Regions from separate parts of the Homo sapiens genome. Here region 1 is linked to region 2. Evidence: fine-mapped QTL for protein levels in blood plasma. Region 2 holds a variant in brackets. A gene starts in the other region. All regions are shown on one strand. Distances are from middle to middle.

Region 1 (5,374 bases), 17 Mb before region 2:
AATTTTTAACCAAATGTACATAATTTTAATTGCTTTTTTTTTTTTCAGCCAGCAAGCATTTTTTTCCATCTAGTTATCGGGAAAGTAGAACTAGAGGCAAAAGAAAATGTGTTGAATGGTGAAACCCTGTCTCTACTGAAAATACAAAAAATTAGCCAGGCGTGGTGGCAAGCACCTGTATTCTCAGCTACTCGGGAGGCTGAGGCAGGAGAATCACTTGAACTCGGGAGGCAGAGGTTGCAGTGAGCTGAGATCACGCCACTGCACTCCAGCCTGGGCGACAGAGGGAGACTCCGTTTCACAAAAAAAAAAAAAAAAAAAAAAAGAAAATGTGTTGAGAAAGAGTGAAAAAAATCATTGGCTTGAGAATCACATTGGCGGTCACATAAAGGTGAGGTTTGTGTTCCATGTATGTGTGGAAGGATACCTATTTTCCTGTGCCTTTGAAAACAGAATTAAAAGTGACAGACACAGGGGAGGGTAAGGATATATCACAGAGTGAAGTATCATTGAACCATTCCTCTGTTGAATATTCAGGTTTTTTTAGCTTTTCATATTAACAATAATGCTGCAATGAACAAGCTTGCAAATATATATATATATATATATTTTTTTTTTTTTAGAGATAAGAGTCTTGCTCTGTCGCCTAGGCTGGAGTGCAGTGGCACAATCTCTGCTCACTGCAACCTCCGCCTCCAGGGTTCAAGTGATTCTGCTGCCTCAGCCTCCCAGGTGGGATTACAGGTGCCTGCCACCACGCCTGGCTAATTTTTTTGTCTTTTTAGTAAAGATGAGGTTTCACCATGTTGGGCAGGCTGGTTTCAATTGCTGACCTCAAGTGAGCCACCCCGCCTCAGCCTCCCAAAATGCTAGGATTACAGGCATGAGCCACCGCACCCAGCCAAGTTTGTACATATATTTTTGACTACACTTCTTAACTATTCTTAGGATAAATTACTAGAAGTGAAAATTCTTGGGTGAAGAGCTTGAGGCCTTTACACACACACACACACACACACACAAAAATAGGCTGGATGCAGTGGCTCACACCTGTAATCTCAGCAGTTTGGGAGGCTGAGGAAGGAGGATCACTTGAGTCCAGGAGGTTGAGAATAGCCTGAACAACATAGCAAGATCTTGTCTCTACAAAAAATTTAAAAAAAATTAGCTGGCCATGGCAGCATGTGCCTGTAGTACCAGCTACTCGGAAGGCTGAGGTAGGAGGATCGCTTGAGCCCAGGAGGTTGATTGAAGCTGCAGTGAGCTGTGATTACACCACTGCACTCCAGCCTGGGCAACAGAGCTAGACTCTGTCTCTAAAAAAAGCACAAAATAATATTTAAAAAGCACCAGGTATGCCTGTACTTGAGTTGTCTTTGTTGATGGCTACAAATGAGGACAGCTCTGGCTGAAGGGCGCTTCCATTTCCATGGGCTGAAGGAGGGACATTTTGCAAAGTGTGTTTTCAGGAAGACACAGAGTTTTACCTCCTACACTTGTTTGATCTGTATTAATGTTTGCTTATTTATTTATTTAATTTTTTTTTTGAGACAGAGTCTCACTCTGTCACCTGGGCTGGAGTGCAGTGGCATTATTGAGGCTCATTGCAGTCTCAGACTCCTGAGCTCAAACAATCCTCCTGCCTCAGCCTCTGGAGTAGCTAGGACTACAGGCATGTGCCACCATGCCTGGCTAATTTTTTAAATGTATTTTTTTGTAGAGTCGGGGTCTCCCTATGTTGCCCAGGCTGGAGTGCAGTGGTGTGATCCTAGCTCACTGCAGCCTGGACCTCGGGCTCAAGTAATTCTCACACCTCAGCCTGTCCAGTAGCAGGGGCTACAGGCGCGCACCACCATGCCCAGCTAATTAAAAATATTTTTTTGTAGAGACAGGGTCTCTCTATGTTGCCCAGGCTGGTTTCAAACTCCCAGGCTCAAGCAATCCTCCTGCCTTGGCCTCCCAAAGTGCTGGCATTACAGGCGTGAGCCACTGCGCCTGGCCCGTATTAATGTTTAGAACACGAATTCCAGGAGGCAGGCTAAGTCTGTTCAGCTTGTTCATATGCTTGGGCCAACCCAAGAAACAAGTGGGTGACAAATGGCACCTTTTGGATAGTGGTATTGACTTTGAAAGTTTGGGTCAGGAAGCTGGGGAGGAAGGGTGGGCAGGCTGTGGGCAGTCCTGGGCGGAAGACCAGGCAGGGCTATGTGCTCACTGAGCCTCCGCCCTCTTCCTTTGAATCTCTGATAGACTTCTGCCTCCTACTTCTCCTTTTCTGCCCTTCTTTGCTTTGGTGGCTTCCTTGTGGTTCCTCAGTGGTGCCTGCAACCCCTGGTTCACCTCCTTCCAGGTTCTGGCTCCTTCCAGCCATGGCTCTCAGAGTCCTTCTGTTAACAGGTGCATGGGGGTGGGGTGGGGGACTCTGGGTGGGGAGGAGGGTAACTTTTGGGTCTGTCATAAATAGAGGGCCCAGAATATGTAGGAGTCAGTCTGGGGAGAGGCAAAGGGGATTTGGGGAAGGAGAAAGGGTTCAAGAAGAAGCAGGGAGAACAGCTAGACCCAGACAGGCTGGCCAGGGAAGCCTGGATGAATGACCACATTCATGGACTGTGCAAGGCTGCTTGCCGGTCCCCTTGCTTCACACATGAGGAGACGGAGGCCCAGGGAGGAGAAGTGACATGGCTCAGGGTGCGCAGCAGGTGTGAGACCCCTTTCCTGAGTGCTTCCTCCTGGATCCCCTCTCACCATCTCCACTTTGCCTCCGGTTCTATTTTCCAAGGTCCCGGGTGCAAATGTTTGTTGAATGACTGATGAATGAAAATGATTTGAGTTTGTTACCTTTTATGCTTATATGTTGTGGAAAATGAAATTCTCCTCAAAAGGGAAGGAAATACTTGAGAGCTGCATAGGAAGGAAATTATCTAATTAAGAATGTATAGAAACTTCACTGTTGGGCAAATCATCGTTGTGACACCGGGGGAAGAAGCCATTTAGGTGCTCAGAAGGGAGGCTGGAATTCAGAGCAGGACTGGACGTGCCCCACGACGGTGGTTCTTAGGTCAGGAGTCAGCAAACAGTGGCCTGGGGGCCCGATATGGCCCACGACCTGTTTTTGCACAACCTGCCAGCTAGAGATTGAAGATGAACACTGATAATCGATTTGATGATAGGGAGCACCACCCCCAAAGAATTCTATTTGTCTCATTTGTAAACCCGTATTACAAACAAATTGTACTCAATCATTATGTTTGAAATTTCCCTAATGACAAATTTGTGGAAAAGTATTTTCTGTCTTGTTATATAAGTACTTGTACAACATATTCTATCAGCCTCTTGGTCTGCAAAACCTAAAATTTACTATCTGGCTGTTTACAGAATAAGTGTGCTAATCCCCGCCCCAGGCTAACAGAGCTGGACCTGGGAGGCAGACATCTGGATGCTGGGTTAGTTAGGGTGACCGAATGGATGGGAAAGGGAATGGAGCAGGAAGACATGCTGCTATCTTTTTTTTTTTTTTTTTTTTTTGATACAGGGTCTTTCTCTGTTGCCCAGGCTGTAGTGCAGTGGCATGATCATGGTTCACTGCAGCCTTGACCTCCTGGGTTCAAGCAATCCTCCCACCTCAGCCTCCTGAGTACCACTACACCCGGCTAATTTTTTATTTTTTGTAGAGATGGGGTCTCACTGTGTTGCCTAGGCTGGTCTTAAACTCCTGAGCCCAGGTGATCCTCCCACGTCAGCCTCTTAAATTATTGGGATAACAGGCCTGAGCCACCACACCCAGCCATTGCTTTCTTTTAAATTATTATTAGTTTTTGTTTTTTTTTTGTATTTAATTTTGAGATAGGATCTCTCTCTGTTGCTCAGGCTGGAGTGCAGTGGCACAATCAGGGCTCAAGTGATCCTCCTGCCTCAGCCCTCCAAAGTGCTAGGACTACAGCCCCTAACTGGCATGCTACTTTCCTCTGCTTGATCCTTCCCCCATTCTCCCTTTAGCCTTGACCTTATGTCATGGGTTCAACTTGGACACTGAAAACGCAATGACCTTCCAAGAGAACGCAAGGGGCTTCGGGCAGAGCGTGGTCCAGCTTCAGGGATCCAGGTGAGACCCTTAGATGGAGCCCCCTTTCTCAGTGCTTTCTCTCCAAGACTTACATACCTGAAAAAAATCAGCGATTTGAGTGATCTTTTTCAACAGATAAATCAATTCAAAATATACAACAAATTCATCTTTTGAATTTACAGTATTCTAAATTCAAAAGATGCAAAAGGGTGTAAGAGTAAAAATCTCTTCCTTACTCCCTTCCCCTAGTTCCCTTCCCAGGAGGGACCTCACAAATGGTTTCCTGGGTGTTCCTTCGGGGAGACTCTGTGTGTGCATAACACATACACGTTCCCTCCCTCAGCCAACACACCATGTGTAGTATACATTGTACTGAAATTAAGGCCTGCCTGCAGGCTGCCGCCTATTTTTGTGAATGAATTTTATTGAAAACAACTCCGTCCACTTGTCTCTTACTGTTTATTGCCCTTCCCTCCCTTCCTCCCTTCCTTCCTTCCTTCCTTCTTTCCTTCCTTCCTTCCTCCCTCTCTCATTCCCTGCTTCCCTCTTTCCCTCCTTCCCTCCCTTCCCTCCCTTCCATCCTTCCTTCCTTCCTTCCTTCCTTCCTTCCTTCCTTCCTTCCTTCCTTCCTTCCTTCCTTCCTTCATTTCTTTCTTTCCTTTCTGACATGGTCTTGTTCTGTCATTCAGCCTGGAGTGCACAGGTGAAATCATAGCTCACTGTAGACTCAAACTCCTGGGCTCAAGCAATCCTCCCACCTTAGCCTCCTGAGTAGCTGGGACTACAGGCATGTGCCACCACACCTGGCTAATTTTTTGATTTTTTTTGTATAGACGAGGTCTCACTCTGTTGCCCAATCTGGTCTCAAACTCCTGGCCTCAAGTCATCCTCTTGCTTGGGCCTCCCAACTTGCTGGGATGATAGGTGTAAACCACTGTGCCTGGCTATGGCCACTTTTGAGCTGTAATGGCAGAATTCAGGAGCTGTGATAGAGATTGTATGGACCCTGAAGCCTAAAACATTTACCTTTACAGAAACAGTAATTGTGGAGGTGATAGTACCTTTCCAGAAGAAGGGGGCTGGTCTCTGCTCTTTGCTTTATCTCCCATAATACAGCCCAGTGATTTGAGTCCATTAATCCCATGTTATGCTTGCATTGCATGCCATAATTGGGAGATGCTATAATTTATTTTATTTTATTTTTTTAGAGACTCCCTCTGTCGCCCAGGCTGGAGTGCAGTGGCATGATCTTGGCTCACTGCGACTTCTGCCTCCTGGGTTCAATCGATTCTCCTGCCTCAGCCTCCTGAG
Region 2 (5,374 bases):
CTGCACTCCAACCTGGACAACAGAGGAAGATCCTGTCTCTAAAAAAAGAGAGAAATATATATTTTATTCTCCTTCATATACCCTCACAAACACCTGGGAGATCTGACTTGAATTTAAAATCCACAGACTGGCCAGGTGAGGTGGCTCACACCTGTGATCCCATACCTTTGGGAGACCAAGGCAGGAGGATCACGTGAGCCCAGGAGTTCTAGACCAACCCAGGCAACATAGTGAGACCCCATCTCTATTTTTAAAATAAATTATAAATTAAATTTGTAAAAAATAAAATCCACAGCCTTCCCAGAGTTCCACCCAGCAGCCCAGAGAGCAGAGGCCGACCCTGAGCCCTGCTCCTGAGCTACTTTTCTTCCCAGCCCTCCTCTGCCTTGCCATGTCTCATACATCAAAGGGACTTGCATGTGTCCATGTGGACACTGAAGCCCAGTGTCCCAGCTCAGGCCTCACCTGTTCCCGCACAGACACCCATTGATGTGTTTCCCCTCAGGCCTGGGGGTGCTCATCTGAGGCCTGTTCACCCTCTGGAGGACAGAACGAGAGAGGAGGCACATGTGGGCCATGAGTGCAGGACCAGGGCCATTGAGCAGCTCACTGATGTTAGAAGAGGCCTCCATAGGGGCACCTCTCCTTGGGTCCTTAGACTCCTGACTCCTTAGGGGCCCCACCAGGGTGGGCCTAGAGCCAGTCTAGGGTGGAGTATTAGTTTCCCATTGCTGCCGAAACAAATGACCACAAATTTTTATTTATTTAGAGATGGGGTCTCACTCTGCCACCCAGGCTGGAGTGCAGTGGCGTGATCTCAGCTCACTGCAGCCTCGACCTCCTAGGCTCAAATGATCCTCCCACCTCAGCCTCCCAAGAGTTTGGGACTATAAACGTGAGCCACCACACCCAGCTAAGTTTTGTATTTTTGTTTTGAGATGGAGTTTCACTCTTGTTGCCCAGGCTGCAGTTCAATGGCGTGATCTCAGCTCACTGCAACCTCCGCCTCCTGGGTTCAAGTGATTCTCCTGCCTCAGCCTCCCAAGTAGCTGGGATTATAGGCGCATGCCACCACACCTGGCTAATTTTTTTCTTTTCTTTTTTTTTTTTTGAGACGGAGTTTCACTCTTGTTGCCTAGGCTGGAGTTCAATGGCATGATCTTGGCTCACTGCAACCTCTGCCTCCCGGGTTTAAACAATTCTCCTGCCTCAGCCTCCTGAGTAGCTGGGATTACAGGCATGCGCCACCACGCCCAGCTAATTTTTTATTTTTAGTAGAGATGGGGTTTCTCCATGTTGGTCAGGCTAGTCTCGAACTCCTGATCTCAGGTGATCTGCCCACCTTGACCTCCCAAAGTGCTGGGATTACAGGCATGAGCTACCACACCTGGCCCTAATTTTTTTATTTGTTTGTAGAGTTGGGGTCCTGCTGTATTGCCCAGGCTGGTCTTGAACTCCTGGCCTCAAGCTATTCTCCCACCTCAGCCTCCCAAAGTGCTGGGATTACAGACGTGAGCCTCCACACCCGGCCCAAATGACCACAGATTTAGTGGCTTTAAACAACACAAATGTATTGTCTTACAGCTGTATAGGTCAGAAGTCTGGTGTGGGTCTCATGGGACTAAGATCAAGGTGTTAGCAGACCATGCTCCTTTCTGGAGGTTCTCGGGGAGAATCTGTTTCTGTGCTCATTCAAGTTTTTGGCAGAATTCAGTTTTTTGCAGTTGTAGGACTGAGGCCCAGTTTGCCTGCTGGCTGTCCATGGAGGGCCTGTTCTGAGCTCCTAGAGGCCACTGCACTTGGTTGACAGAGCCTGCCTGTCTCCATTTTCAAAGCCAACCACGGAGGGTGATTCCCCCTCACACTTCTTGGTTTTTTTTTCAGACAGAGTCCCACTCTGTCGCCCAGGCTAGAGTACAGTGGCGCAATCTCTGCTCAGTGCAACCTCCGCCTCCCGGGTTCAAGCGATCAAGTGATTCTCTCGTCTCAGCCTCCTGAGTAGCTGGGACTACAGGCGCCCACCATCATGCCTGGCTAATTTTTGTATTTGTATTTTTATTTTTATTTTTATTTTTATTTTTTTTTACTTTTTATTGATCATTATTGGGTGTTTCTCGCAGAGGGGGATTTGGCAGGGTCATAGGACAATAGTGGAGGGAAGGTCAGCAGATAAACAAGTGAACAAAGGTCTCTGGTTTTCCTAGGCAGAGGACCCTGGGGCCTTCCCCAGTGTTTGTGTCCCTGGGTACTTGAGATTAGGGAGTGGTGATGACTCTTAACGAGCATGCTGCCTTCAAGCATCTGTTTAACAAAGCACATCTTGCACTGCCCTTGATCCATTTAACCGTGAGTGGACACAGCACATGTTTCAGAGAGCACCGGGTTGGAGGTAAGGTCATAGATCAACAGCATCCCAAGGCAGAAGAATTTTTCTTAGTACAGAACAAAATGGAGTCTCCTATGTCTACTTCTTTAATTTTTGTATTTTTAGTAGAGACGGGGTTTTACCATGTTGGTCAAGCTGGTCTCGAACTCCTGACCTCAGGTGACCTGCCCGCCTAGGCCTCCCAAAGTGTTGGGATTACAGGCGTGAGTTACTGCGCCTGGCCTGCCTCACACTTCTAATCTTTCTCCTTTTTCATCTCTCTCATCTCTATAGCTCATCTACTTCTCTACCTACTTCTTTTTCCCTTTTAAGGACTCAAAAGATTAGATGGGCTCATCCAGAAAATTCAGGAGAACTTTCCCATTTCAG[G/A]GTCAGCTCAGCAGCAACTTGATGTCATCTGCAACCTTAATACCCCTTTGGCAGGTAAGGTAACAGGTTCCAGGGATTTAGATGTGTATGTTTTTGGCGGGGGTTGGGGGGGCATTCTGCCTTCCACAGGTGGCAATCCTGAGGAACAGCCTCTCTGAGAAGATGATCGATAGCTGAACATTGCAAAGGAGCAAACCATGAGCCATGCCGCCCAGTATAGGTGCCACTAGCCCCCGTGACTATTTAAATAAATTAGACTTGGCCTGGCAAGGTGGCTCATGCCTGTAATCCCAGCACTTTGGGAGGCCGAGGCAGGCGGATCACCTGAGGTCGGGAGTTTGAGAACAGCCTGATCAACATGGAGAAACACCGTCTCTACTAAAAATACAAAATTAGCCGGGCGTGGTGGCGCATGCCTGTAATCCCAGGCAGGAGAATCGCTTGAACCTGGGAGGCAGAGGTTGCGGTGAGCCGAGATCTCGCCATTGCACTCCAGCCTGGGCAACAAAAATAAATAAATAAATGAGACTTAAATACAGTGGGTTGCAGTGGCTTGTGCCCATAATCCCAGAACTTTGGGAGGTTGAGGCAGGAAGATCGCTTGAGCCCAGGAGTTCTAGACTAGCCTGGGCAACATAACAAGACCCTGTCTCAAAACAACAAGAACAACAACAAAAAAACTCAAAAGCAAAAATGAATAAATAAATACAATTAAAAATTCATTCCATTCCTCAGTCACACTAGCCACATTTCAAAGGTTCAATCCCCACATTTAACTAGTGGTTACTGTACTGGACAATGCAGGTTAATAGAACATTTCCATCATCCCAGAAGGTTCTACTGAATGGAGTTTGATTCAGAGGAGATGAGTTCCAGGCAGAGGAAGGGGCACATGCAAAGTTTTGATCCCATTGACACCATCCTACTAGGGTGTGGAAGGACATAACACACACCAGGAGCACAAGCCTGGCAGATCTGTATTCCAAACCCATCACAGAATCATAAGTTAACCATCGACTATAAGTATCAGAAAATGACCTCACAGACCCTGGGCCACCCCATGCCCTAGATGCAAACCCCAGTTCAAGATAGCTTGGATGCACCCCAAGCTCTCCTAACTCTCCGTTCATTATTCCTTCCTTTATACCCTGCTGCTTTCCCGACTAGGAAGGCCGTCTTTCCCCCAGTCTACCTCCTCATTGCTTTCTTCTTTTTTTTTTTTAAGACAGAGTTTCACTCTTGTTGCCCAGGCTGGAGTGCAATGGCGCGATCTTGGCTCACTGCAACCTCTGGCTCCGGGTTCAAGTGATTCTCACTGCCTCAGCCTCCCGAGTACCTGGGATTACAGGCGCATGCCACCAAACCTGGCTAATTTTGTGTTTTTATTAGAGACATGGTTTTTTCCTGTTGGTCAGGCTGGTCTCGAACTCCTGACCTCAGGTGATCCACCCCCCCTTGGCCTCCCAAAGTGCTTGTATTACAGGCATGAGCCACCGTGCCCAGCCACTTTCTTTTTTATTTATTTATTTTTGAGATGGAGTCTCACTCTGTCACCCAGGCTGAAGTGCAGTGGCGCAATCTCGGATCACTGCAATCTCTGCCTCCCAGGTTCAAGTGATTCTCCTGCCTCAGGCTTCTGAGTAGCTGGAACTACTGCCACCAAGCTCAGCGACTTTTTTTGTATTTTTGGTAGAGACAGGGTTTCGTTGTGTTGGCCAGGCTAGTCTCGAACTCCTGACTTCAAGTGATCTGCCTATCTCGGCTTCCCAAAGTGTTGGGATTACAGGCGTGAGTCACCATGGCCAGCCCTCATTTCTTTCAAGAGCCAATCTAAAGAGTACACTTTCAGAAAATCTCAGGTTGGTTTTTTTTTTTTTGCAAGAGAACTTATGCTAATTTCCCCTTTACTTTTATTTTCTTATTTTGTTTTTGTTTTAATCCACTCATCTACACACTGATCCCCTTTATTTTTAGATATGCACAAGGGATACAGTTGGGCCAGCATCCCCTCATTTTTATTCTTTGTTAAAGGTCTCCCTGTCTTGTCTCCATAACTAAATTGCACAGCAACTGTGACTTCTCCGTGTTTGGTTTCCCCACAGCAGATGGCAAAGGTTATTGAGAAGTTTTTACTGAAGAAAGGTATAAAGTAGGTATGGTGGAGAATAGAAGGAGATAGGACAATTCCAAAGTCATAAAGGTCATTCCAGACTGATTGGTGATGTGCAAAATGTCTCTGTTTTGTTTGTGATGTGGCTGGGATGAAAGAGGTTTTTTTTTTTTTGTGACCAGGGCTGGGCAGGGACAACTTCCTGTCTAGCACCTTCACACATACCTTCAGAGACCATTTCCTCCATCTTCCTTTTGTCCTGGGGAGCTCCCTTAGAATATGTGTCCACTTCTTGTCACTTTGAGTTGATGCTTTATAGACTCCTTGAAGGAAAGTTATAGGATGAAAATAGAAATAGAGCATCAGGGATCATTGTGTTGGGGATATCTTTAAGACATTCTAGAGTTTTAAAAGGTTCCATTTTGTAGATAATTCCTTGATCCTTTTTTTTTTTTTTTTTTTTTTTTTTTTGCAACAGTGTCTCGCTCTGTCACCAGGCTGGGGTGCAA

Which allele goes with the higher level. Alleles are on the strand shown, and positions count from the first base shown. The strength of an association depends on the size of the effect and on how common the allele is.
In carriers of allele A in region 2, the plasma level of the protein whose gene starts at base 2,280 in region 1 tends to be lower than with G alone (weak association).

The links. PIP is the posterior inclusion probability: the model's chance that the variant is causal. Protein levels are from antibody-based Olink assays in UK Biobank. Linkage for the fine-mapping came from a reference panel and not from the study's own genotypes, which makes the PIPs less certain.
Region 1: ITGAM starts here. The variant in region 2 is fine-mapped to the plasma level of the ITGAM protein (UK Biobank, PIP above 0.99).

Annotation. Positions count from the first base shown.
Region 1 is chr16:31,257,696-31,263,069 of GRCh38, forward strand. ITGAM (integrin subunit alpha M) reads left to right here and starts at 2,280. Exons shown (of 30, transcript NM_000632.4): 1 at 2,280-2,397; 2 at 3,997-4,102. The coding sequence starts at 2,370. RefSeq lists an enhancer at 2,037-2,136.
Region 2 is chr16:48,398,480-48,403,853 of GRCh38, forward strand. No RefSeq gene overlaps it. Among named protein-coding and RNA genes, the nearest start is that of SIAH1, 16 kb to the left of the region's middle. RefSeq lists an enhancer at 595-1,340. The variant G/A (reference allele first, on the strand shown) is at 2,756.